Linked DNA regions of Homo sapiens. The protein of the gene in region 1 interacts with the protein of each later gene in a biochemical or structural test. Each region holds a gene or a part of one and is shown in the gene's direction. Other genes may lie near its edges.

Region 1 (4,127 bases):
TTTCTGCCCTATAAGCACAGGCAATTTGTCCATCTCACCCGCCTGGCACTGTTGGGCCCAGAGAGAAGCCTCAGCGAGGTGCTTTGAGATGGGATTTGTGGGGTGTGCATCTGCCCCCCTCCGCATGTCAGCTGGTTTCCAAGCCCCAGCCAGTCTGGTTGGGAGCCAGTGCGCCTAGGTCAGAGCCCAGAAAAACTGGCTAGACTGGTCCAGTCACTTCGTGGCTGCAGAACCAGGGAGGCAGGGCTTGTTCTAGACTGACCGCTATACTTTAGAGTCTACCCACTGGAGTTTTAAGAGGTAGTGGGGGCTATCAGGAAGCACAGTGAGAATCTTAGTTGAACCTTTGAGTGCTGGGATGTCAGGGGCTTTAGGAGAATTGGGACAATATATTGGTCATCATCCCTGGTCAGTACCAAAGCCCACAGAGCTGAAAGGCACCTGCCCAGGGTGAAAGGCTGGGACAAGTGATGGCCGCAGCATTGCCATTTCCAGTGGGGAGTGCCCTCCCTCTGTGATCCATCCACCTCTCCCTCCCTGTTTTCCCAGCCTCTTTGGCAAGGTGTGTGAAGGGCTCATTTCTAGAAAGCCCTTCCTAGCTCAGCAGAGGCCAGAGGTACCAGGCTGGGTGGGGAGCCTGTGCACAGAGACAGGGAAAAGGAGTGTGGCTGGGGGACAAGGGGCTGGGCTGGGTGGGCTGGAAAAGCAAACCGGGTCCAGGCGGGGTTTTACCCTGGGGAAAGGGCTTTAGGAGAGTCCAGGGCCATCTGAGGCACAGTCCTTACAGGTCCAGGCCCCCTGCACTGGGGACCCAACTGCACTCAGAGCACGGGCCTGGCAGGGTGCCCAAGGGCTCGCTCAGGGTGGATGATTTCACTCTTACGGAAGATGCGGAGACAGACAGACAGTGAGAGAAGCAAAAGGGGAGGGAGAAGAAAAAGACCTGCCTGCCTGCCTTGGTCATTCTTGCTTTTAACTTTCTCCCTAGCATCCAAGAGAGCCTATGCCCGGGTTCTGAGGCCAGCGGTGGCATCTCCTGGAAACTTCCTCTCTGTTTCTCACAAGAATTCCTCCACCCATCCCTATCCTGGTGCCTGGGTGCCCGAAGCCGTCCTCAGCTGTTAGGAGAGCCTTCGGCGCAGAGATGCCCCAGATGAGCTCCCGCCATGATCCCTTCCACCACCCCCAGGGCTGCTCCTCCTCCCCAGAAGCAGGGTGCAGAAGGGACAGGATCTGTTGCCTCTGTGGGCCTGTGTGTTTCTCAGTGGGCATTTTTTTCTCTCTCTCTCTTTCTCTCTCTCTCTCTCTCTCACACACACACACACACACACACACACACACACGCTGGTACCCTGGCGAGTGAGCTACTTTGCAGTGTTTGTAACACCCGCACCTGCCACCTCCCTCAGAAGCCACTGTGTGGTCACCACCTCTCCTCTGAGCATAGCCAGACCTGTACGGCAGGTGTGCAATGCCACCTCAAGGCCAGGGTTAGAGGCTGACTTCCAGAGGAGCAGCTGGGCACCTGGGGACCACGGGCTTAGCTGGGTGAGTGACTAGCAGGTTAGACAGCCTCCCCGGCATCCCTCAGCTGCCCGTGCCTGGCTGGGAGCCCGAGAGACTCAGCCACTCCTTCATCTTCCCAGACGGGTAGGGCAAGGCTGGTCCTTGGAGGGAGGCTGGTCCTTGCGTCCTGGGCTTGGTCTTGGTCTAAGCCACGCCCTTCCCCTTCCTCTTTCTGCCAACTCTGCTCCTGTCCCTTGCCTACGCCTCCCAGGTTCTTTTAAGCAGGTACACTGTTTACTGGCCAGGTGCGCCATTTACTGAGCTGCTGTTGCACTAAGGCCCACACAAGTGACCCCATTGAGTCCTCCCATCCCCTTCTAGAGGGGAAAGAACCTGATGCTCCCCTAATCTCTTGCTCCTCACTCCTGGCCCTCTGCCTGAGTCGCACTGTTCTCCTTCCTCCCCTGCCAACCCCTACCCAGCAGAATATACATATATGACACTTCTCTTACAGGAGCTTCTGCCCCCAAGTCTTTCTGTGCCAATCTTCATCTGTCATGTCCACCAAAGTCTTCCTGAACTGGCCCCACCTCCTCCTCCAGGAAGCCCTCCAGTCTAAATCTGTCTCTCACTGGTTGTTCCTTTGTTCTCACCTCATCCCGTCCCCTGGTGTGAGCCTCTAGCTCATCGTGGATCCTGGGCTGTCCCACAACATGGGGTCTTACAGCTCTTTGATGTATCCCCCCACAGGGGGCTCAAAAACACCTACTAACCAGATTCCACATGGACCCCTGGTGACCCACATCTAACCTGAGCCCTTGTTCCCACCGTAGACTATGAGCTCTGCCTAGACCAGAAAGATTCCCTTACAAAACAAAACAAAACAAAAAAATAACAAAACCTCTGTGTGCCCAGAACTTAGTCCAGAACTGTGCACACAGTAGGTGCACAGTAGATGCTGAACTAAATGGAGGGTCTCTCCCTGCTCCCACTCCCCAATGAACGTCTGTCTGAGTGTGGAAGTGCTATGGCGACAGAAGACACAAGTGGCAAGCCAGACAGATAGGTCCCTCTCTGCCTCCGCGTGTGGATTTGTGACTCAACGGCTTATCAAGGGCTACGCGGCAGCGCGGCTTAGTAACATTAAAAGATTCCAGCACTGCCCTGTGTTCCGCCTCCGGTCCCCATAGCACTGGGGGCGTTGTCCACGTGCACGCAAGGGCAGCATGTTGCTTCATGAGCGGTTCTGGACAGGGATGGTGGGAGATGTTGCTAGAGGGAATTGTGGCCCTGGGCTTAGAAACAAAGGGGCAAGAAGGTCTCAGAAGCTGGGGCCTCCAGAGAGCAGGGTCAGGGCACTCTAGCCTCCAAATGGGGACTGGGGAGGCGGCCTAGGTGGCATCCTGGGGTTCCCTCCCTGGTGCTGTCCTGGTTCTGCTGGTCATGAGGCAGGAGTAGCCAGGCAAGGCAGGGGCGCCAAGAGCACTGGCATTCCTGGTACCTTCGTGAGATCCCGTCCGTTGGCATCCCACCCCTCCAGCTCCCTGTGAGTCGGTGTGGGGGTGCAGCCTGGGGCGTCTTTTCTCTCCTGATGGCTGGGGCCTCATGGCCTGACTGTGGAAGCTGCTGCAAGGCTGTGAAATGCAGGGCAGGGGGGCCTAGGAGTGGTGGGGCTCACATGCACCCTGGAGGAAGGACCACTGTCCCTAAAGCTGACAGGGCAGGAGACCTGGGGTTGGAGCTGACTCAGCCACTTCTTGGATGGGTGACCTTAGGCAAATCACATGACCTCTCTGGACCCTTGTGTCCTCTTTACTGGACCGACCACAATGCAGAATGAAAGAGGAAATGCCTGTGCTGCTGCAAGGGGCCTGCTCCCACCAAAGGCCAGTGAGACCTGCTGTTTTCATGGGTGGGAGTCCCACCCCAGGACTCCCCTCAGAACTAAGCCCAACTATCACTCAAGACCCGCCTCCTCCATGAGGCCTTCCCTGGTGAGCCAGGCATCACACTCTGTCCTCCAGCCAAAGCAGGGCTCTCAAACCAGCTGTGGGGAAGGACCACATGGATTTTTCCAATCCATGGCCAACTGGCGTGTGGTCCTGCTGTGTAGCCTGCACCACGTGATTCACCTGGCAAGTCTGACAGCATCTGAATTGGTCTAGACCCTGTTTGACGAGATGAGTCTTGACTGCATGCTCGGATGTCACCGCAGGGATGGATTCACATGAAATGCTTACTCTCCAGTTTTGTACTTCTCAAGTTGTAGACCAGGAACCAATTGTTGGTAGGTTGGCAAACTTGACCAGTCGGACCAGTCCTCACCACCCTTTGAATAGCACGGGCCTAAAGCCCTCCTTTGGGGCCAGAATTCACTGCCTGGCCCAGATCTCTGGTTCACCCTTCACACAGCCTGCCCCTCCTGCCATGCTTCTTGCACTTGTGTGTCTCCATTGCATGGATGTGAGTGATGTAGTGGCTCTTTCTGGCAGCCAAGGCTGGGCGACGGAAGAAGGAAGAACCCTTGTCCAGGAGGAGGAAACTCTTTGGTTTACTCAGACCCCTTACCCAGTGGCGGGTTCTGAGCAGGCCCCTTCCCCCTCCTTGTCACACTCATCAAT
Region 2 (4,127 bases), on another chromosome or scaffold:
ATGCCGCCACTCCCAGCTAATTTTTGTATTTTTAGTAGAGGTGGAATTTCACCATGTTGGCCAGGCTGGTTTCGAACTCCTGACCTCAGGTGATCTGCCCACCTTGGCCTCCCGAAGTGCTGGGATTACAGGCATGAGCCACCGTGCCCAGCAATTTTTGTAATTTTTATTTTTGTAGAGACAGAGTCTCCCTATGCTGCCCAGGCTGGTCTCAAATTCCTGGGGTCAAGCGATCCTCCCTAATGTTGAGATTTCAGGCATGAGCCACCACGTTGGCCTGAAATGTACAGTTGAATGGCTAGTGGCTGCTCTAGGGGGGCACTGCAGGCCTAAAGGAAGCGGGTAGCCGGGCCAGGGTGGAGGGCTAAGATAACAGAGCTTTCCCAAGCAGAGCCCAGAGCCCAGGGAAAGGATGCTCCATGCAGAGTCTCGGAAGTGAGAAGCGAGGGAACTGGGAATGGTTGTGAATGGCTGGAGGAAAGAGGCAGGAGGGGGTATAGTGGGAAGTGCAGGAAGTAAGGGTTCATCCCAAAGGTGCGAACTTCATTCCGAGAGGGCTCCCTTTCTCTGCACTTCTGGTCTCAAAGATGGAGAAGGGAGACACATGGGGTGACCTGGCAGAAGCTGGGGAGTCAGGGCCCCGAAGTGCCTGACCTTGGCTGATTCTCCCTGTTACTCATCTAACACTTGCTTGTAGAACAGCAGGCCCTATGCGGGGACCGGGGACTCAGTAGGAAAGGAGACTGATAAAGTCACTACCCTACCCTCAGGCAGGTTTCATAATGACTTCCATGAACCTTAGGCACTTTTGCCCTTCTGCATTAAAAAAAAAAAAAATAGGCCAACACGGTGGCTCATGCCTGTAATCTGAGAACTTTTGGGGAGGCCAAAGTGGGAGGATCGCTGGAGCCCAGGAATTTGAGATGAGCCTGGGCAACATAGCAAGAACTCGCCTCTGCAAAAAAATTTAAAAATTAACTGGATGTGATTGTGCCTGCCTATAGTCCCAGCTACTCAGAAGGTTGGGGTTGGGATCGCTTGGGCCCGGGAGGCCAAGGCTGCAGTGAGCCGTGTTAACGCCACTGCACTCCAGCCCTGTCTCAAAAAAAAAAAAAAAAGTTTAAATTTTATGACTTTGTTGCTGCAAAGACCGATATTATCCAGGGTACAATTTTCTCTTTTCTTTTTTTCTTTCACTTCTACTTTGAAAAGAAATGAAAACACTTCCCCTAAAAGCATCATGGGCCCTAGACACTGTAGGTGCGATGCCTGGGATACATCAGCCCCGCCTTCAGGGAGTTTCTAGGCTAGTGGAGGAAACAGACAGCAAGTAAACAAGATGGTTTCTGGGGAAGAGAGATGCTGTGAAGAAAATGGGACAGAGGGAAGTGCAGTCTGGGTAGGGGGCCGGGGAAGGTCTCGCCGAGGAGAACTTCGCGCTGAAAAGGAACTGTGACAATAAGAGGGAAAGCTGTTGCCGAGAGAACCAGGGCTCGCAGGTGTTCTCCAATGAGGGTAGACCTGGGGCTGACAGAGGAGAAGGAAGAGGTGGGGGTGGAGGTGGACCAAGGGAGCAAGTGGGAAATGGGGGCAGGGCTGGGTCCCGCCTGCAGGACCTGTCTTCGTGTGGGCTTCCCTAGAACGGGAGCCGGAGGTGGGGATTCCTGTACCAAGGGTTTGCTACGGGGGAACCTTCAGGGAGTGTGGGAGACTGGCTGGGGTTGTGGAAGGAAGTCAAGCAGACACGGTTCACGCTGGAGTGGGAACCCATGGGGTCAGGCTGGGCACCCCGGCTTTAGTGCTGCCTCGGGCCTCCGTATCCGTCCATCGTGGGCTGTGGGCTGCTCCAGGAAGCAGGGACACATAACGGACTGGGCGAGTCCAGGACTCTGAAGGAGGGTGATTCTTAAGGGCTGCAGGCAGGTGACCCTCCCAGCAGTGGGTGAGGGATGGGATGCTGCATCCAGGGGGAGGGCAGCTGCAGGGGCACCAGCAGTGCCTGCCATAGAGGGTCTTGTAGACCAGAGTTGGGAGTTTGGTCCCCTCTGATCTCCTCCTAACTGACATGGGATTTCAAGCAGGGGCAATAGCATGCTTTTTGAAAGATGCCTCTGACTCTTGTGTGGAAAACAGACTGGAACAGGGTGGGGGATCAAGGATGGCAGCAGGGAGATGAGGGAAGAGGCTGCTCCATCCCGGAGAACACTGGTGGGGACCTGGATGTGGGCAGTGGCTGGAGGAAGGAAGCAGATCAAGAGTCGATGGAAAATCTGCTTTCTTCTCCTTTCTTTCTCCTTCCTGCCCAGACTTGAGGCTTTTCATTCCCGCAGAATTCCCTTTCGCCTTCTTTTCTTTTTTTTTTTTTTTTTTTTTTTTTGAGACAGAGTCTGGCTCTGTCGCCCAGGCTGGAGTGCAGTGGTGTGATCTTGGCTCACTGTAGCCTCCACCTCTCCACCTCATGGGTTCAAGTGATTCTCAAGCCTCAGCCTCCCGAGTAGCTGGGATTACAGGCGCCTGCCACCATGCCTGGCTAATTTTTGTATTTTTAGTAGAGAGACGAGGTTTTGCCATGTTGGCCAGGCTGGTCTTGAACTCCTGACCTCAGGTGATCCTCCTGCCTCAGCCTCCCAAAGTGCTGGGATTACAGGCGTGAGCCACGTTGCCCGGCCTCCTTCCACCGTCTTCACACTGCTCTCCCTTACGGCAGGGGCTTAGGGAAGGAATGGGGGCAGCCGTATAGTGAAGCCACAAGCCTTTCTGCGCTGACTGATCTCTCTCTATCTTTTCTCTCTCTCCCCCTCTGACTGCCGCTCCAAAGTCGAGCTTCGATCCCCACCACCGTGCCCAGCCAAGTTACGAGCGTCCTTCTTTCCTGCCTCCAGGACCTGGGTTGATGCTCCGGCAAAAATCTATCGGTATGCCACCCAGAAGAAGAGATGTGGGGGCTGGGGGAGGCCAGGAACGTGACAGTTCAGGAAAAGCAAGCAGACTTGGAAATGTTCTGTGCTCCCAGAGAGACCATAGTTTCATCAAATTGGGTTAAGAGTTCAGGCTTTGGAAATGGGTGAACTTGGCCATGAATCCTGGCTCCCCTCCTTCCCAGCTGTGTGAACTGGGGCAGGTGGCTTGACTTCTCTGGGCCTCTGGCTCTACATCTGGAGAATGGGGATGCAGTGAGCTAAAGCCCCCGCTACAGCTTTCTGGTTGTTTCTCTTATACCCGATTCCATCCATTCATTCATTTTACAAGTGTTTACCAAGCGCTCCCCACATGCCAGGAATTGTTCTAGAATGGGGATACGTCAGCGAATAAAACAGACTAAAGGTTCCTGCCCTCATGGGCTTGCCTTATAGCAGGGGAAGACAGATAATGGATTATAAGGAAAATAAGCAAGAAAATTATCTAGTATGTTAGCAGTTGTACGTGCTATGGAAAACAAAAAAAAGAGTGGGCCGGGCGCAGCGGCTCACGCCTGTAATCCCAGCACTTTGGGAGGCCGAGGCAGGCAGATCACAAGGTCAGGAGATCGAGACCATCCTGGTTAACATGGTAAAATCCCATCTCTACTAAAAATACAAAAAATTAGCCGGGTGTGGTGGCGGGCACCTGTAGTCCCAGCTACTCAGGAGGCTGAGGCAGGAGAATGGCGTGAACCCGGAAGGCAGAGCTTGCAGTGAGCCGAGAACGTGCCACTGCACTCCAGCCTGGGCGACAGAGCAACCCTCTGTCTCAAAAAAAAAAAAAAAAAAAAAGAGTGAAAAAAAATAATGGAGTAAGGTAAGAGAGATAGGGAGTGCTGGGTAGGGGGCAGGGTGCAGGTTTGAGCTAAAACCTATAGATGGGCCAGGCACAGTGGCTCACACGTGTAATCCCAGCACTTTGGGAGGCCGAGGCAGGCGGATCACAAGGTCAGGAGTTCAAGACCAGCCTGACCAACATGATGAAACCCCATTTCTACTAAAAATACAAAAATTAGCCAAGCGTGGTGGCATGTGCCTGTAATCCCAGCTACTCAGGAGGCTGAGGCAGGAGAATAGCTTGAACCCGAGAGGCAGAGGTTGCAGTGAGCAAAGATCGCACCATTGCACTCCAGCCTGGGCGACAGAGCGAGACTCTGTCTCAAAAAA
Region 3 (4,127 bases), on another chromosome or scaffold:
ATATAAAAAAAAAAGCTGTGCATGGTGGTGTATGCCTGTGGTAGCAGCTACTCTGAAGGCTGAGGTGAGAGGATCGCTTGAGCCCAGTGAGGCGGAGGCTGCAGCGAGCCAAAACTGTACCACTGCACTCCAGCCTGGGTGACAGTGTGAGGCCGTCTCAACAACAACAAAAAAAGTTGAACCTGCTTTTCTGTGTTTACTGGCTGTTTGGAGTTCAGCTGTTGATTTCCTTACCCCAACTTTATTTTGTGTTATTCTTGTTGACTTGTAGCTCTTTAGTCTGGATGTTAACCATTTGTTGATTAAATACATAGAGAGTATCTTCCCCTTGTCAGTTTATTTTTATCTTACAGATTATGTTTGGAGGGGCGGCAGGAGGGCTAGAGTTGCACTGTTTTCTGTAGACCAGTTTACTTTTATGGATATATGCTTTTTGTGTTCTAAGAAATATTTCTCTATTCAATAATATATTATTTAGATATTTTTATCACTTAAAAGTTTTTAGTTTACTTAGGATTTTTGAATACTATGAAACTGCCAAGCTATTAATTATTCTGTGTTTATTCTCGTAGGTGGTGCGGCTGAACAAGCTGGAATAATAGAAGCTGGAGATGAAATTCTTGCTATTAATGGGAAACCTCTGGTTGGGCTCATGCACTTTGATGCCTGGAATATTATGAAGTCTGTCCCAGAAGGACCTGTGCAGTTATTAATTAGAAAGCATAGGAATTCTTCATGAATTTTAACAAGAATCATTTTCTCAGTTCTCTTCTTTCTTTAGCAAATCAGAGTGACTTCTTTAAACCACAGGTTGTTGAAATGGCCAACACTGGTACAGACACGGACTATAAAAATCTCCAAGCTTGTGCTTACACATGAAGCCTGACTTAACTGTATGTGCAACAGCAATGAAATTAACTCCAGAAGCCTTCCACCTGCGTCACCCAGGCCGGGAGGGTTCCTTCGTTCCAGTGCCTGTCCCCTACCTTTATGTTATGTTTACTGATGGGGATACAAGATGTGACACACCCTTCTTTATTTGAAACAAACAAACATTTAGCTAGACCTTTGCTTCCTTCTTGCCAGCTCTCCCAACATACCCAATCCTGGTGATCAGGGAACTAAAAGTCTGAGGGGGACACAAATGTCACACCTAAGAGGACAATCAATCATTTTGTATGATTTTGTAAGTAAATGACAGAATGCTTTTAGGCACATTCAATGGAAGGAGGAGATGTAGGTCTGTATATGTTACCCTGAAAAGAGAATAAGACTTACTTAAAAAAATGAATTATGACCTGTTAGGCTGAGCTCAGGAATTGTCCAAAAAGGAAAAAGCAAAATAATTAATTGAGAGTATTTTTTAGTGAGTGTAATGTATAATGTACGTATGCAAAGTTCAACTCAATAGGTTATTGATCACCATGAAGTATTGATCATTTTCTATCTCAAAAGTGTAAGCCATAAGGCTGTTTTACAGAATAGCACTTCTGATAAGCTGTATTAAATAGCCATGAGCTTCACTGCTTAGAGGGAGCAGAAAGGTCAACATCTAAAAGCACCTTACAACTAGTTTTTGAACCTGTCTTGATAAGTGCTTGAATTCAAGACTGGTCAGTCCAAGAGCAGACAAAAATATCACAAGTCAGTCAGTCACTGGGTTTCCATTTCTGAATTTTATGCACTCCAACCATGAATTTAAACTAAATTTTTAGAAATCAAGTATCTTTCTAAGTGTCCTTGGATTTATAGACAATGTATGTACAATCCAAATAGAGGAGCTTAATGGAATCCTTTTAGGAGACTGGTTGGTTTTTTTCCCTCTTTCCCAACATGTTTAAGAAATGTAACATTCTAAGTATTGGATCTCTTTTCTTGACCTAGTATAATGACAACTGCAGTGACTTAAGTTTTTGCTGTTTTCGTTTTCCCGCTTTGCAATTTCCTCCTTTTGCCAAAAATGTTTTCCTACAGAAGACTGTCGTGACTCACGCTACTTGGGAAACTCACTCTGGCCACTCCTCCTCTGGTGGCATGAGCTGCTTCCCAGTAGCTATTCCGATTGGATATTCCGTTCGTCGTCACATAGCTGGCTTTTCTCTCCTCATGATGTACCTTATTTTCTTAGGTAAATAATTCCAAACTCTCATCGGGTCATAAAGAGGAGGAGAAACAGGGTGAGTCAAGGTAAAGGAGCAGAAATGTAGTTACAAGCCAGGTCGTCTTCAGTGGCACAAACCAACCCGTTGAGCCCTGACAACATGAGTGGAGAGTGCATTTGCCATACCTGTGTGCATGACACTAAGATTTTATGTTGGAGATACTTCTTTAAATAACCTACAGCTTGGGTCTATGGCTGTGACCCCCAGATTCATGGAGGGGCTTTAGCCATCAGCTTTGTACATCATCATTTTTCTGAATGACCAATCCCACTAAACATCTTTGAAGTCGGCCTAGAGAGGTCCTTCAGATGAGAGAGAAATAGCTGGCTTGTCTGAGTCCAGATTTCTCATCAACTGGCAATACAAAGGAAAATATGGTACAGGAGTTAGTTAGAAAGGTCTTATTGATTTTACTTCTACTTTTCACTACAGTTACAGGTAGAATACTGTAGGAAGTCAGTGCAAGGTGCATGCTTGATTGATAGATATTGATTGATTGTTTTTCAGTCTCTGGGGTCAGTTTTGTGGTTTCTGCTTTCTTGCCTAAATCAAAGACTATTTCAAGTCAACAACACTGAAAACTGCTTTTCGCCTCCACTCTTACAGCTGTGCCTAATAATAATTAATTAATAAACGCACAGCCCTATGTGAACAGACAGGAATTTCTTGTGCAATGTGGAGCAAATGGAATGGTCTCCTTCCGCAAGTCTTTTTAATCCTCATATCTGGAGTACAAGGGTAGACCTCTGGCTTACCACATACACTATGCTAAAGTCATCAGCCACTGCTACTACATCTTGCCAGAAGGTTTCCCTCGCCAACAAACAGTTGAAATTTAAGGGAAGAAGCAAAAGCTAAACTGTCTTTGACCCTAAGATAGATAGAAAGCTATTTATTTGTCTTCAGTGTTCAAGGCATGACTAGTATTTCTAATTAGCCTAATAAATTCCCACACTTTCTGAAGTGAACACTAATGGTATTGTCCTACTAAAACTGTCATTGTTTCTTTTTTTTTAACTGGTCAGTCATTCACAATAAGCTATGAGGGTAAATAAATATGTGTTATAACAAGTAAACCGTAGTTGCAAGAATATACCATGAAGATTAAAGTAGGCTGGGTTTCATTTCCATCTTCCCACACATCTCATTGAATTTGATGGTTGACTTAATTGGCACCATAACTTTGTATGATATTATACATTAACCTTTATTTATGTAAAGTAAAATGCCTTATATATTAAAGAGTAAGTGCAATAATATGAAATAGCCTGTACATTTTAAAAATGTTGTCACCAAGTTATATAAATCCACATCTCTGTAAACAACCTTTTTTAAGTAATTTTAAAAAAAATAAACACTCTGCTTACTACTTGATTTTTTTTTTCTCTTTTGGCTGTTTGTTTGTTAATAATAGAGTAATATTGAGATGAGAAATGTTTATTGTCACCTAAATGCATCAGAGGTACAAAGGCAATAGAACTCAAATTAGCCACCCTTTTCCAGGCCACACTCACAATCTTGACACAATCCAAAACTTTTCCACCTCTAAATCTTTCTTACAATTGAACATCCTACTCTTTTACCACACGCTCCCAGCCTCCTGGTCACTTCCTCCCACGTCTTCACTTTCAAAAAGCCCTTGACAGTTTTCTCCCTATCAGAACTCCACCCTTCCATTCCCTTCTCAGACCAGAACCCTAGCGTAGCACAGCAAACTCTGCCCAGCCCACAGGCTTAGATCCCTTGCCCCACTGTTGTGTCTTACCAGGCGATTCTGGACCCTTCCAAATAGCCAGCATCTTGGTTCCTATAACCGTATTCCTAGAGGAAAATCCCACAACTAGACAGAACGCTGCTGCTGTAAATTCACAGTTTCCAGCCTTAACTGGACCCTCGCTGCCACTCAGCACTTGTTTCCTTGTCAGTTTTTCCTCTCATTTTTCACAATAATGTTCTTTTTCTCAA
Region 4 (4,127 bases), on another chromosome or scaffold:
GTCCTGCCCAGCGACGGCTTCCAGGTGGACTTGGAAGCCAACTGCCTGGACGACAGCATCTACCAGCACCTGCTCTACGTCCGCCACTTTCTGTGGGGTCTGCGGAGCAGAGCCAGCCCCGGCAGCCCTGGCAGGCCTGGCAGTGGGGCCTCCCAGCCAGTGTGCCCCGAGGTACCCGGGGAGGGGGCCCCCCAGCCAGCGTGCCCCGAGGTGCCCGGGGAGGGGACCCAGCCAGCGTGCCCCGAGGTGCCCGGGGAGGGGGCCACCCAGCCAGCGTGCCCCGAGGTGCCCGGGGAGGGGGCCCAGCCAGTGTGCCCCGAGGTGCCCGGGGAGGGGGCCACCCAGCCAGCGTGCCCCGAGGTGCCCGGGGAGGGGACCCAGCCAGCGTGCCCTGAGGTGCCCGGGGAGGGGGCCACCCAGCCAGCGTGCCCCGAGGTGCCCGGGGAGGGGGCCCCCCAGCCAGCGTGCCCTGAGGTGCCCGGGGAGGGGGCCCAGCCAGTGTGCCCCGAGGTACCCGGGGAGGGGGCCCCCCAGCCAGCGTGCCCCGAGGTGCCCGGGGAGGGGACCCAGCCAGAGTGCCCCGAGGTACCCGGGGAGGGGGCCCCCCAGCCAGCGTGCCCCGAGGTGCCCGGGGAGGGGACCCAGCCAGCGTGCCCCGAGGTACCCGGGGAGGGGGCCCCCCAGCCAGCGTGCCCTGAGGTGCCCGGGGAGGGGGCCCAGCCAGAGTGCCCCGAGGTACCCGGGGAGGGGGCCCCCCAGCCAGCGTGCCCCGAGGTGCCCGGGGAGGGGACCCAGCCAGCATTCCCCGAGGTGCCCGGGGAGGGGGCCCCCCAGCCAGAGTGCCCCGAGGTGCCCGGGGAGGGGGTCCAGCCAGCATTCCCCGAGGTGCCCGGGGAGGGGGTCCAGCCAGCATGACCCGAGGTGTCTGGGGAGGGGGCCCCCCAGCCAGCGTGCCCCGAGGTGCCCGGGGAGGGGGCCCAGCCAGCGTGCCCCGAGGTGCCTGGGGAGGGGACCCAGCCAGCGTGCCCCGAGGTACCCGGGGAGGGGGCCCCCCAGCCAGAGTGCCCCGAGGTGCCCGGGGAGGGGGTCCAGCCAGCATGCCCCGAGGTACCCGGGGAGGGGGCCCCCCAGCTAGAGTGCCCCGAGGTGCCCGGGGAGGGGGTCCAGCCAGCATTCCCTGAGGTGCCCAGAGAGGGGGTCCATCCAGCATGCCCCGAGGTACCTGGGGAGGGGGCCCCCCAGCCAGCGTGCCCCGAGGTGCCCGGGGAGGGGGCCCAGCCAGCGTGCCCCGAGGTGCCCGGGGAGGGGGCCCAGCCAGCGTGCCCCGAGGTACCCGGGGAGGGGGCCCCCCAGCCAGCGTGCCCCGAGGTACCCGGGGAGGGGGCCCAGCCAGCATGCCCCGAGGTACCTGGGGAGGGGGCCCCCCAGCCAGCGTGCCCCGAGGTGCCCGGGAGGACAGGAGAAGGGTTGGAAGCTGGGCTGGGGGCAGCAGGCGGGAGCTCTGGGAACCCCGGGAGTCCTGGCCCAGCGCAGGCTGTGCTCCGGATGGCGGGGAAGCCCCTTTGCCTCTTGCGCGTCTCAAGCTGCACAGGCTGCGGGAGTCCTTTGCTGACCTCTGCCCCGCGGCCTGGCGGCCCTTCTGCTGCAGGCTGCCCAGTTGCCCGAGTGCTGTGTCCACCTGGCCACTCCTCTACCTGAGCTGTCACCCTTCCTCTCCCTAGGGTATGCACCACGTGGTCCTTGACGGGCACCTGGAGGCCCCGAGCTGCCCCCTGGCTCCCAGGGACCCTGGCCCAGCAGCCCGGGAAGTGGCCCCGGAGCGTACTCTTCCCTTGAGGGGGGCTCCCTGGGCACAGGCCCCCCCTGGAAGGCAACCCAGCCGTGGGGGCTCCCAGGCTGGCCCCCCGCACACGGACTCGTCCTGCTTGCTCACGCCTCCCAGCACTCCACTTGGCCCTGAGCCTGGGGACCCCGACTGGCCAGAGTCCGGCGGCCCCTGTGGAAAAGCGCTCCCAGAGAGGCAGAGGAACGGACTCAGCGGCCTCCGGGGTGCAGCTCCGGAAGGTGAGCCCTGCCTGGTGCTCAGGCGGGAACCCACCCCAGACCCCGCACAGCACCCTGATGGCCGGTCCCCTGGGATCGTTCCCCCCTTGGGTCCTAGGTTTCCTTACCTGCCCCACAGACACCTGCAACCTGAGACGGGGCCAGATGGAGAGGGCTCAGGGCTGCTCAGCCCCCAGCAGCTGGGCCACACGGTCGCTCAGTCGCTGACACGTCTTGGGCAGATACTCACTGTGATCTGGGAGGGAGAGAGTCTAGAAAGTGGCTCAGAGTCACTCCTGCACTGGGCAGAGGAAGGGATGGCTGAGCCAGTGGAGAGGATGTGCTGAGGGGGAACCCAGGGGTCTTCAGGGAGAAGGTGGAGCTGGAGTCCTCCAGGGCAGGGCCTGTGTGTGCCTGTGTGCTTGTGCGTGTGGATATGTGTGCTCACAGGTGCATGGGTGTGCTGGTGCGTGTGTGCATGGGTGTGTGCATCTGCATGGGTGTGTCTGCATGGTGTGCATTGTGTGTGCATCTCTGCATGGGTGTGTCTGCATGGTGTGCATTGTGTGTGCATCTGTGCATGGGTGTAAGTGCACGTGTGCATGGGCATGCTTGCACATGTGTGCATGGCTGTGAGTATATGTGTGCATGAGTGTGTGTGCGCAGCTGGCCTAGGCTGGGGAGGGCATTGAGGGTGAGGCAGCCCCAGCCGGCCCTGGCCTCCTGTGAGGGGCTTGGGTGTGCCTTGCAGGAGCGAAGTGTCCTGGGTGCGTGTGCAGAGTCAGAGTGTCCCCTGTGGCTTGGGGCCACCTGGCCAAGCTGGGTCCCAGGCAGGCCACTTGCTCAGGTGCACAGCTCATCTCTGACCTAAGTGCACCCACGGCAGGATCACCATTATGGAGAGGGCACCAGCTGGTGGCCCTCAGGGCAGGTGCTTGGGCTGGGCTGGGCTAGGGCCTGGGGCCCCGGTCTGGTCAGCGGTGGGAACCCTCAGGGTGCACATGGCCACATCTGGGTGTGGAGGGAGGAGGAGGAGGAGCAGAGATTGCTGAGGAGGTGGCACAGAACCGCGTGGGTCCCTGGAGCTGGAAAACAGCCGCCCCCAGAGGGGCGAGTGTCCTGGGACTGCCAGGGGCGGGGACTGAGGTGCTCCCTCAGGGAACATGGGGGTGTCGCCCATGGGCGGACCCCGACCCTAATGTCTGGGTTGCCGGTCACATTCTGCCTGAACAGCGTCTCCTGGGAGCCACAGGAGGCCATCCCATCCCTGACGCCCTACAGAGGCAGCCAGGCCAGGACATCCCATTCCTCGTCGTGATTCCTGGCGCCTCACTCCCACCCACCTTTCCTGGCCCCCACCCAGGAGACTCTGCAGCCCTTGCGGAGGAGTCCCCTCCAGCCCCGTCCAGCCGCAGCTCCAGCACCGAGGACTTCTGCTACGTCTTCACGGTGGAGCTGGAACGAGGCCCCTCCGGGCTGGGGATGGGCCTGATCGACGGGATGGTGAGTGGCCCAGGACCCTCGCCGCACCCCCATACTGGCTGCCTGGCCCCGCCTGTTCATGCAAGCCTGGCCGCAGCTTGCGTGGCCACGTGGCTACAGGAAGGCCTTCGGGGAGGAGAGTGGGGTTGGCCTCTGCAGCTGGGAGGGGAACCCAGCCTGTCCAACGGCCACGCCCCCTGGGCCTGCTGTCTCTTGCCTCTGTCCTCAAGCCTTTGGGGTCTGTCCTGGGCCTGTGGGGACGGTGGTGTCCACTGCTTTTCTGGAGGGACGCGTGAAACCATGAGTGGGCCTGGCTGGATGCCAGGCGGGGGCCTGTAGGTGCCAAGGGAGGGGCTGCAGTGGTCCTCGCTGGGGACAGCCAGTCGGGCCTGCGGAGCTCTGAGGCCTCTGCTTGTCCCCAGCACACGCACCTGGGCGCCCCCGGGCTCTACATCCAGACCCTGCTCCCGGGCAGCCCCGCAGCGGCCGACGGGCGCCTGTCGCTGGGGGACCGTATCCTGGAGGTGAATGGCAGCAGCCTCCTGGGCCTTGGCTACCTGAGGTACCCCCACCGCATGCACGCCCGGCCCCTTCTCCCAGAT
Region 5 (4,127 bases), on another chromosome or scaffold:
GCTGCTGCCCATGCTATTGGATACATGCAATGTGTTGGTCGTCCTGAGGGGCCGTGCAGTAAAGCAGACACAGACAGAACCCAGCGGAGGAGATGCCAGGAGACAGCAGGTGTGTGTGCAAGGAGCAGAGGCATGGCAGGCAGAGAGCAGGGCTCGGGGCAGTGGGAACCGGGGGCTCGGGAGGCCTCACAAGCTAAGCCTGAAGTAGGCACCCCGGGAGCTGGGCCAGTGGATGCAGGGCAGTGGGGGCAGCTCGCAAGCACCGAGGCCCGTGTGGCCGGAGCGGGGAGGAATGAGGGATGGGTGAGTGAACGCACGAATCAGTGCATGGATGAGTGAGGGGAGGAATGAGTTAGTGAAGGAAGTGGCAGAATGAATGAGTGAGGGAGGGAATGAGTGAGTGTCCAATGGATGAGTAAAAGAATGAATGAATGAGTGGAGTCGGTCAATAGGGAAGCGGGATGTCCCAGCCCCGTAGAGGAAGTGGTGTGTACCGTGTGGCTTCACCCCCGAGCAAGGCCTCTCCTTGCAGATGCACAGGCAAAGCCTCCTCCCCTTCTTCCCACAGGGCCTGCCCCGGTCCCTGCCACCATCCCCAGCCTCTCCTACTTCCCCCATCACAGAGACCCTCTGAGCTGGTTTGGGGGAGCCCTGCCTTCAGAACCTCCCGCTGTGCAAGCTGCCCAATGTCTGATCGCTCACACCGAATCCTGAGGGCTCATCCCAGATTGACTTATATCCCGCAGAAGCAGACTGAATGACTCTTCTGAAGTTTAGAGTGTTTCTCCCATCCACCTTTGCTGGCCCTTTGGTCCCTGGGTGTGCACAGAGCCGGCAAACAGCCTGATGAGGAGGCCCCGGAACCAAGCCTCATTCCACCCTGATAGGGATCAGACGGCGGGTCCAGGCGGACACGGAGCCGGCAATGAGCAGTCACCAGAGGCCGCAGGCCAGGGCTCCAGGGACTTGCTTGTTTTCACGGTACTTTCCCTGAGGCCTCCAGCCTCCCTGTGACGAGGCTCCACTGCCCTAGGCCCGGCCCTGGGGACTGAGCATCTGGTGGCTCATGGGGAGATCCCAGGAGTGATTCCTGCTCCAGCACCGCCTCCCTGCTGGCTGGCTCGGCGCTTGTCTGGTCCAAGCCCCTGTCACTAGGCGTCACGGCCCCTCTGCCCTCCCCATCCCGGGCTCTCCAGCAGAGGTCGTGCTCCTTGAACAGGGGTGTGAGAGCGCGTGACGGGCATATAGCACCTCAGCATCACATCCTCCACACCTGCTGGGAGCTCCCTGGGCTGTGGGCTGTGTAGCCCATGTTTCTCAAAACAGCCCTGGAGGCACCACCCATGCAGGACCCACAGCCCTGGTTGCCACCCTGTCCGGTGCCCCGTGCTGATGGACCTCTCACTGCCCCCTTGGCAGCACACTGACCCCTCACTGCCCTTCCCTCGAGCCCCGGGCCCTGAGACATGTCATTGAGGAAATTATAACTGGATGCACTAAGTGGCACGTTGCTGGCCTTCCAGGAGGTAGGGATGGGGGCAGCATCTTTCTGGAAGGCCCCAGCCACCAGGCTCTGAACCAACTAATTACTGACTCCAGCCCGGCTGGGAGGCCGTTTCTGCCCTCAGAGCCTCCAGTGACTGATGCTCTGAGTGGGTGGGTGAGACCCAGCAAAGATGAGACAGATGCTTTTCCAGCACAGGCCTCCCGGCTGTGACCCCTGACCTGAGGTCTGAGTGTGGGCATGGAGGCCAGTGGGCAGCCGCGGGCATTTTCTGCAGACCCCGCAGGTGCCTGGCCCTGTGAGGCACCCTGGGGCTTCCGCAGGCAAAACAGGTGCAGTTCCTACTCTGGGGCACACACGGAGTGGGTGTGGCAGAAGCTGGCTGCGGATGTGAGTGGACAGATGCTGGGGTCACCGTGTGGGGTGGCCAAGTGGCCAGATGCCCAGGCTGCCTGGGGCAGACCCCTGCTTTGCCCTTTGCCTGCCCGCCTGACCTAGGCAAGTAGTTCAGCGTCTCGGGACTCAGTTTTCCCACCATAAAGACCTGAGAGTTAGGGACGACAGTAGTTTCTTGTGGCTGCCATAACAAAGTACCACAGACTGCATGGCTTAAAATGACAGAGATGTTTGCTCCCATGGTTCTGGAGGCTGGAAGTCCTAATCAAGGTGTCAAGGTCCTAATCAAGCAGGGCTGCTTTCTTCTGGGGGATGTTGGGGGAGTGTCCCAGGCCCCTCTACTGGCTCTAGTGTTTTCCGCAGTCCTTGGTACGCCTCGGCCCTTAGACCCCTCTCTCTGCTCTGTCTCCATCATCTCATGGCCTTCCCCTCTGTGAGACTGGACTTCCCTCCCTTAAAGACAACACAGACACACTCTGATGTCACCGTAACTTCAGGACACCTGCAAAGACCCTGTTTCCAAATAAAGTCACATTCACAGTCACATGGGGTTAGGACTTGGCCGTATCTCTTGGCAGGGATACAGCTCACCACAGCACCCCCCTTGCAGGGTGCCCATGAGCATTCAATGGCCTGCCTGCCTCAGAGGGAGCACAGGGTGGCATTCGCTGCCATCTCTGGTCCTGTGGGTCACAGCGAAGCTCCTGTACTTTGCAGAGACTGTCACCTCCCTGCACGTGCCAGACGCTCCCATCCCTCCATGCTTTGTCTCTTGCTCTCACCTGCCTGCACGTGCCAGACGTTTCCATCCCTCCATACTTTGTCCCTCGCACATTTTCCTTGCTCATCTCTACTAAGCAGCCTCAGGGAGTGAGTACCTGCTCTGGGCTGGGCCCCACGCTGGGGTCCCGAAGGTTCCCACCCTGGAGAAGGTCCCAGGCTGTGTCTGGCATTCAGCCTCCTCCCCTGCTGGATGTGGGGCTGTGGTTTCTACTCAGAGAGCTCTGGTGAGAACTGGGGATTGTTGCCCATCGGCAGACACCAATGCAAACCCAGGCCAGCTCCACACCGTTCACAGAGGGCAGGGCCCAGGCTGGCCTCATCTGTGCCTCTGCACCCCTGCCCTCGGGGTGTCCAGGGCTCGGGTCCTGCATCTGCCTGCTGCCAGCACTGCCACATTTGGGGCTTTAGGCAGCTAGCCTGGGGGTGAGGGTAGAGGGAGGTGGGAATAAGCCTTCTCAGCCCTCCCAGCACTCACCCTGTCGGGATGATCAGGAATCTGCCCCAGCCTCTGGGGAGCCTCCCTTCCTGGGTACCTGCTGCAGCCCTGCAGGATGCTGTGTGTGCAATGGGGCTTTTCCCCTAGGGCCAATTATTGTCCTGTTTGTTGAGAGGCGTTTTAGAGCCCAGGCATCACCACTCGGCGGAGGAGGTGTTGTTGTCCCATTTCCCAAATGGGGAGACCAAGGCTCAGAGAGCTTCACTGACCTGCCCACGGTCAGGCAGATAATAAGTGGGTCCTGGACTTGGGATTAGCATCCTGGTCTGTCTGGCTCCGTGCTCCGTAGTCAGGATGGCGAGTGCAAGCTGGGAGTCATCTGACATGTCGCAGGCAGCCTGTCTCATCTCAGCAAATTGCAGCGAGAGGTGATCATCATCACCTCTTTATGGCTGTGAATGGGTGCAGGCGCCGGTGACTTGGCCAGGTCACAGGGCCAGGATTCAAATGGGAGCTTGAGGGACTCCAGACCTGTGTTCTGTCAGCCACACACTGGCTCTGCTCCTCGCTGACCAGCCCCACCACTGCGCCTGACTCCCCCGCGTCCTAGCCCCACCCTAAATGCCCGCCTGTGTCTCCCTGGCTGCAGACACCCGCTGTTTGGCCGCAACGTGCCCCTGTCCAGCGGTTCTGGCTTCATCATGTCAGAGGCCGGCCTGATCATCACCAATGCCCACGTGGTGTCCAGCAACAGTGCTGCCCCGGGCAGGCAGCAGCTCAAGGTGCAGCTACAGAATGGGGACTCCTATGAGGCCACCATCAAAGACATCGACAAGAAGTCGGACATTGCCACCATCAAGATCCATCCCAAGGTGGGTGGGCGTGGGTGGAGGGGCGGAAGCACCTGGGGCTGGGCATGGTGGCCTCTTCCCAGACGCCGGAACCCAGAGGCAAGCTAGCCCCACCTTCCATCAGCCAGGGGGAGGAAACTGGGCCCAGGGAGGACTG
Region 6 (4,127 bases), on another chromosome or scaffold:
GCGGGCAGATCATCTGAGGTCAGGAGTTTGAGATATGGCAAAACCCCGTCTCTACTAAAAGTACAAAAATTAGCCAGGCATGGGGGTGAGCACCTGTAATCCCAGCTACTCGGGAAGCTGAGGCGGGAGAATCACTTGAACCCGGGAAGTAGAGGTTGCAGTGAGCCACGATTGTGCCACTGTACTCCAGCCTGGCCAACAGAGCAAGACTCTATCACAAATTAATAATAATAATGATACCACCCCTAGATTAGCATAGACCAAAGTGTTTCCAAACGCACCAAATGTGTCAAGGGGTTCTGCAGGCTTCTGCTTTTAAGTTTTACTTCTGACTTGCTTATTCAGAGGCCAGGAGGGAGAACAGAGAGAGATGAGCTAAATGCAAAACAGAGTATATGTGGCAAAGAGCTATTTCCTTAATTTACTAAGAACTCTTGTAAACCAATGAGACATGGGAACTGGCACACTTTTTCTCGAAAGCTCCAAATAGTAAATATTTTAGGCCTTGTGAGCCAGAGGGTCTCTGTCGAAGCTAGCAACTCTGTCCTTGCGGGGTGGAGGCGGCTGCAGTTGGGAGTGAGTATGGCCACCTTCGGCACAGTGGATGGCACAGGACTGGACCCTCAGTGGGAGTGTCCAGACCCCAAAATTAGAGAATTCAACCAATGGAAAAAATGGTGAAAGGGTACAAACACACGGAATATGAGCAGGTCAGTCAGCATGCTTCGTTTGTAATTAAATCCATGTGAAGTAATACAACAGGGACATAGCGTTTTCCACCTGTCAGACTGGCAAACATCAAAAAGTTTGATAGGCCAGGCGTGGCACCTCTCACCTGTGATCCCAACACTTTGGGAAGCCCAGGTGGAAGGATCACTTCAGCCTAGGAGTTCGAGACCAGCCTGGGCAACATAGTGAGATCCCACCTCTACAAAAAAACTTTAAAAAATTAGCCAGGCATGGTGACACACACCTGTAGTAGTCCCAGCTCCTCCAGAGGCTGAGATGGGAGGATCACTTGAGCCCAGGAGTTTGAGGCTGCAGTGAGCTAGGATTGCACTACTGTACTCCAGCCTGGGCAGTAGAACAAGACCCCATCTCTAAAAATAAAATAAAAAAGAAAGGTAAAACTGATTGCCCATCAGTAATAATAATAATAATAATTTTTAAAAATTAAGGTATAACACACACACAGTACAGTCTTAAGCGTACAAACAGCTTGACGGGCCTTCACATGCCCTTCTGGAGCCAATCACCCAGATCAAGATTTGGGTCCTTTCTAGGTTCTGGGGAAGTGCCATATCCCCTCCCAGTCGTTACCCCTCCCCTGTCCCCTAAGGGAGGACCCTTCCAACCTCTATCACCATCCCTGTCCTTGAACTTGACGTGGACGGAGTCACATTCAATGTTTCTTTTTCATTGCTACACAGTATTTCATGGCATAAATTTACCGCAATAGGGGCAGGCGCTGTGTCTCATGCCTGTAATCCCAGCACTTTGGGAGGCCAAGGCAGGCAGATTGCTTTGAGCTCAGGAGTTCAAGACCAGCCTGGGCAACAGGATGTAACCGTCTCTACAAAAATTCAAAAATTAGCCAAGCATTGGTGGCTTGCGCCTATAATCCCAGCTACTCGGGAGGCTGAGGCTGGAGAATTGCTTGAGCCCAAGAAAGCAGAGGTTGCAGTGAGCCAAGATCGCACCACTGCACTCCAGCCTGGGTGACAGAGTGAGACCTGTCTCAAAAAAAAAAAAAAAAAAATTACCACAATTTACTTATCCACCTGACCGTTGATAAATGTTTCTGTTGCTTGCAGTTTGGGGCTGTTATGATGAAACCACTGTGAACATTCTTATACGTGTCTTGGTGGTGATGGCCCTTTAAAAAAAAAAATCTGGAAGCAGCCTGGGCACAGTGGCTCATGTCTATCATCCCAGCACTTTGGGAGGCTGAGGCAGGAGGATGGCTTGAGCCTAGTTGTTTGAGACCAGCCTGGGCAACATAGTAAGACCCCATCTCTACAAAAAATGTAAAAGTTAGCTGGTGTAGTGGTCATGCCTGTGGGCCTAGCTCCTCAGGAGGCTGAGGTGGGAGGATCACTTGAGCTCAGGAGGTAGAGGCTGCAGTGAGCTGTGATTGCACCACTGCACTCCAGCCTGGGCGACAGAAGGAGACCTTGTCTCTGAAATTTAAAAAATCCAAGGAGGGCTGGGCGCGGTGGCTCACGCCTGTAATCCCACCACTTTGGGAGGCCGAGGCAGGCGGATCAAGAGGTCAGGAGATCGAGACCATCCTGGCTAACACGGTGAAACCCTCTCTCTACTAAAAATACAAAAAAATTAGCCAGGCGTGGTGGTGGGCACCTGTAGTCCCAGCTACTCGGGAGGCTGAGGCAGGAGAGTGGCGTGAACCCGGGAGGCGGAGGCTGCAGTGAGCCGAGATCGCGCCGCTGCACTCCAGCCTGGGTGACAGAGTGAGACTCCATCTCAAAAAAAAAAAAAAAAAAAAAAAAAAATCCAAGGGCAAGCAGAGGCCCTGTGCCGGCGTTTTCTGCGGTTTAGTAAATTGCTATGTCAGTGGATAAATGCTGCTGTGAAGTAAAACTGTAACGTTATTGACATTAGTGCTTCGTTGCCTGCCTCTGCGTAAGGATTATGTGATTCGTGGAAATCTTCTAAGAAGAAATGGCCTATTTTTAAAGGGATTCAGGTATCGTTGGTTCCGGGGGAAACGTTCAGCAGAATAATAACGATACCTCACACCGCCTTCCAAGACTCCTGACTTCAATTCTCAGACGCGTTTCAAGAAGCAGCTTGATACCCTGCGGAGAGCCTCTGCGAGCTGACATGGGGGTCCCTGTTTGCCAGTGAACAGGCACCGTGATCCCCGTTTGAGTCCCTGAGGCACGCAGAGGCTCTTGGCTCTTCGTAGGAGAGTTCTCGATCTTTGAAAAATGTTTCTCCTCCTTCTTAAAGGACGGCCTTTTACCGGGCCCTGTTCCGAGTGTTCTGAGCCCGGGGAGGTCTTAGACTGGCGAAGAGCATGACCTAGTGGGGAAAGGACCCAGCTCCGGTACAAGCAGAAGGCCGTCTGTGCGCCGGGGACGGGTCACCGTGTCTCCTCACTCATTTTATGTGGAAGTTTGCTGTAATTTTGTCTTGCTCTGTTGCCCAGGCTGGAGTGCAATGGTGCCATCATAGCTCACTGCAGCCTCAGCCTCCTGGGTTCAAGCAATCCTGTCACCTCAGCCTCCCAAGTAGCTGCGACTACAGGCATGTGACACCATGACCGGCTAATTTTTTTATTTTTTGTAGAGATGAGGGTCTTGCTATGTTGCCCAGGCTGGTCTCGAACTCCTAGACTCAAACTATCCTCCAGCCTCAGCCTCCCAAAGTTCTGGGATTACAGATGTGAGCCACCGTGCCCAGCCCTGTATCTTTCTTAAGTAATTTGTACATATATACATATTATTTTTAAAAAATTATATATGTAATTATATGTATAATTATATATTTATATATAATTGTATATAATATGTATAATTATATTTGTATAATATCTATTTATATAATTTATATATATAATTTAGTAATTATATATATACAGTTCTATTTTCTTTGACACAGAGTCTCACTCTTGTTGCCCAGGCTGGAGTGCAGTAGTGTGATCTCAACTCGCTGCAACCTCCACCTCGCGGGTTCAGGCAATTCTCCTGCCTCAGCCTGCTGAGTAGCTGGAATAACAGGTGTGTGCCACCATGCCCAGCTAATTTTGTATTTTTAGTAGAGATAGGGTTTCACCATGTTGGCCAGGCTGGTCTCGAACCCCTGACCTCAGGGGATCCGCCCGCCTCAGCCTCCCAAAGTGCTAGGATGACAGGCATGAGCCACCGTGCCCAGCTGTAATTTTAAAATATATTTTAAAGATCAACCTTATGTCTTGTGGCAGTCAGACTAATGGGCCTCGGAGGCCCTCCTCCCACTGCACTGGTGGCCCTACTTCCCCCTTCCGCCTGCCTAGGGCCTCCTGCCTCTGCGCCTGGCACTTCGCCCTGCCCTGTGCCTGAGATGATGATCCTGCCACCTGCCAAGGCCCACTCTGCACAGGCACCAGAGCCCACCTCTCTCCA
Region 7 (4,127 bases), on another chromosome or scaffold:
CTTTCGACAAGACGTTCCGCCTTCCCCTCCCCAGCACCAAAGAATGCCAGCCTATCAGGAAACAGGCAGACCAGGGCCCCGTGGGGGCAGCCCAGACCAGTACCCTTACCGAACCCAGGATTCCCGGCAGAAGAACCCCATGACTGCAGCCGTATAGCTGAGTGCCACCGAGGCCAGCCCGGTCCAGAAAGGAAGGTGTCTACTCTACCTTTGCCCTTTCTAAACCTGAAGACCTCCTTGGTGTTAGGAATTCTCCATGTTACTGATAAGCTTTTTCTCACTGACATTGTAACGCATGACTGCTAATCAGAGAGAAAAAGAAGGGGAAGGGAATTGGGGAGGAAAAAAAATCAGAAGGAAGACGAAAGATGGGGCTATAAAAACAAAACTACCTGATAGTTGAAACGCTTTCAGAGTTGTTCAAATCAGTGAGAGTGGCAACGGAACACACAAACAACTAATTATGGAACTCTACTCTGGGGATCCTCTCTGGCTAGATAACCTGTGCTGATGTGCAGACACGTGGACATCCCCCTCTGAGACTGGCGGTCCAGAGGCAGTCTCTGCCAGGCAGCATTACCCGCTCCGAGGTGGAGCCTCAGCCCCCTTCTTAGAGCTGTTAAGTCTAAGGTGTGGCAGAGCAGACAGAGATAGAGGCATCTGAAGTGAGTATAGGTTTTTTGACTAAGAAAAAAAACAACAGCAAACATGACTAGTGATCTTGAAATATTTTGTACCGAGAGAAAGACTGCATTTATTTGTAGAATTTATCAGGTTTCTGATACCACTCATTGGATGTAAACATTTCATGTTTCCTCACTTTTGATATGAAAGTCGGTAAAATGCAGTATTAGTCCCGGGAGGATGTGCACAGCTGGTCAGAGCTTCCAGAAGGAATATCTTCCGAGGACTAAGGTGATCAGGTTAAGAGGGTTCAACATCCCACGGCCCTCACCTTCCTCCCTCCCACATTCCAGGCATGGAGATATCTGGTTTCAGAGTCAGCCCCAAATCTCCTGCCTATAATTACTTTAACTGGGGTCTCTAAGGTTCCCACTTGAGGGCTAAAATGTAGTTGGGAAAGAGGGCCTACTGGGGAGGTCTCACAGGAGGCAGTGCCCTGGGAAATGCCAAGTCCAGACTCAGTGCCAAGCAGTAACCATCTGCACTCGGGGACAGCGAGGAGCTGACCATGGCCTCTGATGACCAGCAGGTATTAGATGGAAGTGAATGAGAGAGAGAGAGAGAGAGAGTATGTGTGTGTGTGTGTATGTGTGTGTTCGAACACATATGATTGCCAGTATGGAGAATGAAAGATTAATAATGCTTTCTGGAGAGTTTGATGCAAAAGTGGGGGAAACGGAGAAAAGGCGCTAAGGCTAAATCCATCTGCATTTGCTATATTTCATTAGCTAAAGTCAGGTCAGGGCAGGGCCAAGGCCTCCAATTGGCAAAGGACAGTGTTATGGCTTTAAAAAGCTGAAACCCCAACCTCTAAGTAGATCACAATGTTTTCTGAGCTTTGCAGTAATTTTCTATGGAAACTAAAACCTCTAAAACATACAAGCTGGCCCAAATGAGAACACAAGCAAAAGATGTGGAAGACAGCAAAACCTGAGCACTGGTTTGAACCAGGCACTGACATTTGAAATGCTTTAAGCCTTTTCACATTCCTTCTTTATTCCCTCCAAAAAAAAAAGTCTTGAGTTTAATTTAGGTCTATTTTGGCTGAGATTAGCATACCTCTGACTCACAGGATTTAATAAATTATAGTATTATTGAATACATAGGACATCCCTCTACCCCAGCTTACTCTTATCTTTTTAATTTAAAATAGTATTCTGCTACCAAGAAGGATGCAACTGCTAGTTTTAGATGTAAATAGTGTTATTTACTGGACTTTGTGATATTATTTTCTTAACTACACTTTACTATGGCCCTGTTGAAAACAGACTATCAAGTTTTTTGTCTCTGTTCTGTCATCTCTCTTAAGCCAGGCACCTTTAGAGTGTTTGCAATTTGTTCGAAGTGGTTGAGGATCTCAGGCCCTGCTCACGTGAGGTGGAGTGCAGGGGAGCTACCGGTTTCCCTGCTGACCTGCTGAATGCTACCTTCCCCTCGAGTTGAATACACCTTAAGGAAAATGATAACACGAGGGACGTGTAACTTGTTTTGAAGCATTAAAAACCAGCAGCTCTTCACTATGTTCCATATTTTAACCAAACTACTGTAGACTACTAAACATAGCCAAGCCAGAACATTCCTTCTGGATTAAGCCTAGGCCACTTGAGGGGCAGCCAGGGGTGATGGTGTCAGGTGAGAATCCTGTGTCTTGAAGGAGTGGCCTTTACAGGAAGAGTGCCCATGTTTTCACCTGCAGCGTTGCCACCAGAGTGTGCAATACCTCCTGCACACAGGCTCAGGGTAAACTGCTCCAAAGCTGGGTTTTGTGTTGCATACAAAGTCAATAAAATAGTTGCTAATCCTGAATGGCAGCCAGTGATGTGAAGGTACTATTAAAGTGAACAAAAACTAGATTGCAACAGTTTTCTTTCCTTGCTTGAAGTATAACACACGCTCCATTTGATCCTGCCTGAAAGAAGCTAACATTATATTTGTGACAGACAGAGGCTCCATCAAGCCAAGCAACAATTAACAGCTCAAGTGTAAGATTTATAAATGCCCGTGTACTCACCCTTCAATTGTTACCACCCAGAGGTTACAGGACTCTTTCCCAGCATTTAGGGGAACAGGCTTTTAGAGTATTTAGAAGACCAGGCTATAATCAGTAATGTGCCTGGGAGCAGGAAATAGCTCCCAATTTATTTATGGCCTTGGGAAAACTCAATCCGGTGTCTCCTTGTAGCTCAGAACACTAATAGCCCCCCTGGAAGAGAGTGGCACATTGAGCTCCAAACCCAATCAACATACATCCACTTGGCTGCAGATCTGACTGCTGGGTCATGAAGGCCGTGAAATGATGTTTGCCCTCAAGTCACTAGATATTTTAAGAAGCCCTATTTTTCTCCCTTTTTGCAGGAGTAGAGAGATGAAAGAGGACAGACCATTGAAAACTTTTAGATGCAGGAGAATTGAGACTTCCACAAGGGAGAGAAACACAGCCTCCCCAGAATCCATTATGCCATCGGGTTGTGGCACTCTCACCCTTGCCATAATACCGTTTCCTAACAATATCAAATCAGTGGATGAAATACAAGCTCAGAAACAGGAACATTTTCCTAAATCATAACCTAATAGCAAACAAAAATTGAAAAAACAATTATTCTGAAGCTCATTATTCTTAGATCTGTAGATATATATGTGTTGACTCCCACAGGATGGCACCAAGTAAAGATCTTAAGAGCATAGTAGGGGTTCTGAGACCGACTGTCACCCGTGGATCCTGATGGGGAAGAACAGAGGCTTCACTGTAGCTATAGTTTTCCACCAAGTCAATCAAATTAAAACATGACTCATTGTCCCCTCCAAAGATTCATAAAATTCTTGAGCTAAAGTGATCTTCTGAAGAAAAGCCACCTAACAATGTTAGGAGGCTCATAAAGCTCATTTCTCTTTTCCCTGGTATGCACAAATATCAAGCCTATAAAAAAGTAATTATTTCCCCAAACCTGTAACCACTGCATTCGTTTTCTTTGGAGGAACATTGTAGCATTTCAGGAGGGTCGAGAGATCTAAAGAGTTTGGTCTGAATGTGTGTCTGTACAATTCCCTTTGGCATTAAACTCTGAAACCTACAATCAATGGCCTTCAAATTGGTGTTAAATTGGGAGAACACCCTACTGCTTTCTGAGTCTACGAGCAACAGAAAGACTGGTCTTAGTGCAATTAGGCAGGAGGGATTTGGACTCAGAAACAGCCACAGAAGTATTTCTCAGCACTCCCAGTTCCTGCCAACTTAGCTGGAAACGATGCCACAGCGAGACCAGAAAGAGGAGTCGCCTTAAGGTATCCCTACAAAGTCACCTTTCTGATAAAAAGGAGGGAAAAAAAAGTTAGATATCTAAAATAAGCCTAGAATCTCACACACAGCTGTGACTTCTAAGTGAAACTCTTTTCTCCCTCATGTCCTTAAATAGTCACAGAATCACACACAGCCTGACTTTTAA

Evidence for each region.
Region 2: the proteins of CRHR1 (region 1) and SHANK1 interact in a test that uses a peptide from one of them, tested with the Homo sapiens proteins (one large-scale study listed by IntAct).
Region 3: the proteins of CRHR1 (region 1) and PDZD2 interact in a test that uses a peptide from one of them, tested with the Homo sapiens proteins (one large-scale study listed by IntAct).
Region 4: the proteins of CRHR1 (region 1) and RADIL interact in a test that uses a peptide from one of them, tested with the Homo sapiens proteins (one large-scale study listed by IntAct).
Region 5: the proteins of CRHR1 (region 1) and HTRA3 interact in a test that uses a peptide from one of them, tested with the Homo sapiens proteins (one large-scale study listed by IntAct).
Region 6: the proteins of CRHR1 (region 1) and CARD11 interact in a test that uses a peptide from one of them, tested with the Homo sapiens proteins (one large-scale study listed by IntAct).
Region 7: the proteins of CRHR1 (region 1) and PARD3B interact in a test that uses a peptide from one of them, tested with the Homo sapiens proteins (one large-scale study listed by IntAct).

What each region holds. Positions count from the first base shown.
Region 1 is NC_000017.11:45,790,543-45,794,669, forward strand, and holds part of CRHR1 (corticotropin-releasing factor receptor 1 isoform 2 precursor), read left to right. Parts: intron 1-4,127.
Region 2 is NC_000019.10:50,670,806-50,674,932, reverse strand, and holds part of SHANK1 (SH3 and multiple ankyrin repeat domains protein 1), read left to right. Parts: intron 1-2,818; coding exon 2,819-2,915; intron 2,916-4,127. UniProt on the Homo sapiens protein: Seems to be an adapter protein in the postsynaptic density (PSD) of excitatory synapses that interconnects receptors of the postsynaptic membrane including NMDA-type and metabotropic glutamate receptors via complexes with GKAP/PSD-95 and Homer, respectively, and the actin-based cytoskeleton.
Region 3 is NC_000005.10:32,107,397-32,111,523, forward strand, and holds the end of PDZD2 (PDZ domain-containing protein 2), read left to right. Parts: exon of another isoform or gene 1-572; coding exon 573-739; 3' UTR 740-3,536; downstream 3,537-4,127.
Region 4 is NC_000007.14:4,799,590-4,803,716, reverse strand, and holds part of RADIL (ras-associating and dilute domain-containing protein), read left to right. Parts: coding exon 1-171; intron 172-1,721; coding exon 1,722-2,064; intron 2,065-3,406; coding exon 3,407-3,546; intron 3,547-3,947; coding exon 3,948-4,087; intron 4,088-4,127. UniProt on the Homo sapiens protein: Downstream effector of Rap required for cell adhesion and migration of neural crest precursors during development.
Region 5 is NC_000004.12:8,282,793-8,286,919, forward strand, and holds part of HTRA3 (serine protease HTRA3 isoform 1 precursor), read left to right. Parts: intron 1-3,768; coding exon 3,769-3,991; intron 3,992-4,127. UniProt on the Homo sapiens protein: Serine protease that cleaves beta-casein/CSN2 as well as several extracellular matrix (ECM) proteoglycans such as decorin/DCN, biglycan/BGN and fibronectin/FN1.
Region 6 is NC_000007.14:3,033,678-3,037,804, reverse strand, and holds part of CARD11 (caspase recruitment domain-containing protein 11), read left to right. Parts: intron 1-4,127. UniProt on the Homo sapiens protein: Adapter protein that plays a key role in adaptive immune response by transducing the activation of NF-kappa-B downstream of T-cell receptor (TCR) and B-cell receptor (BCR) engagement.
Region 7 is NC_000002.12:205,615,657-205,619,783, forward strand, and holds part of PARD3B (partitioning defective 3 homolog B), read left to right. Parts: coding exon 1-157; 3' UTR 158-4,127. UniProt on the Homo sapiens protein: Putative adapter protein involved in asymmetrical cell division and cell polarization processes. May play a role in the formation of epithelial tight junctions.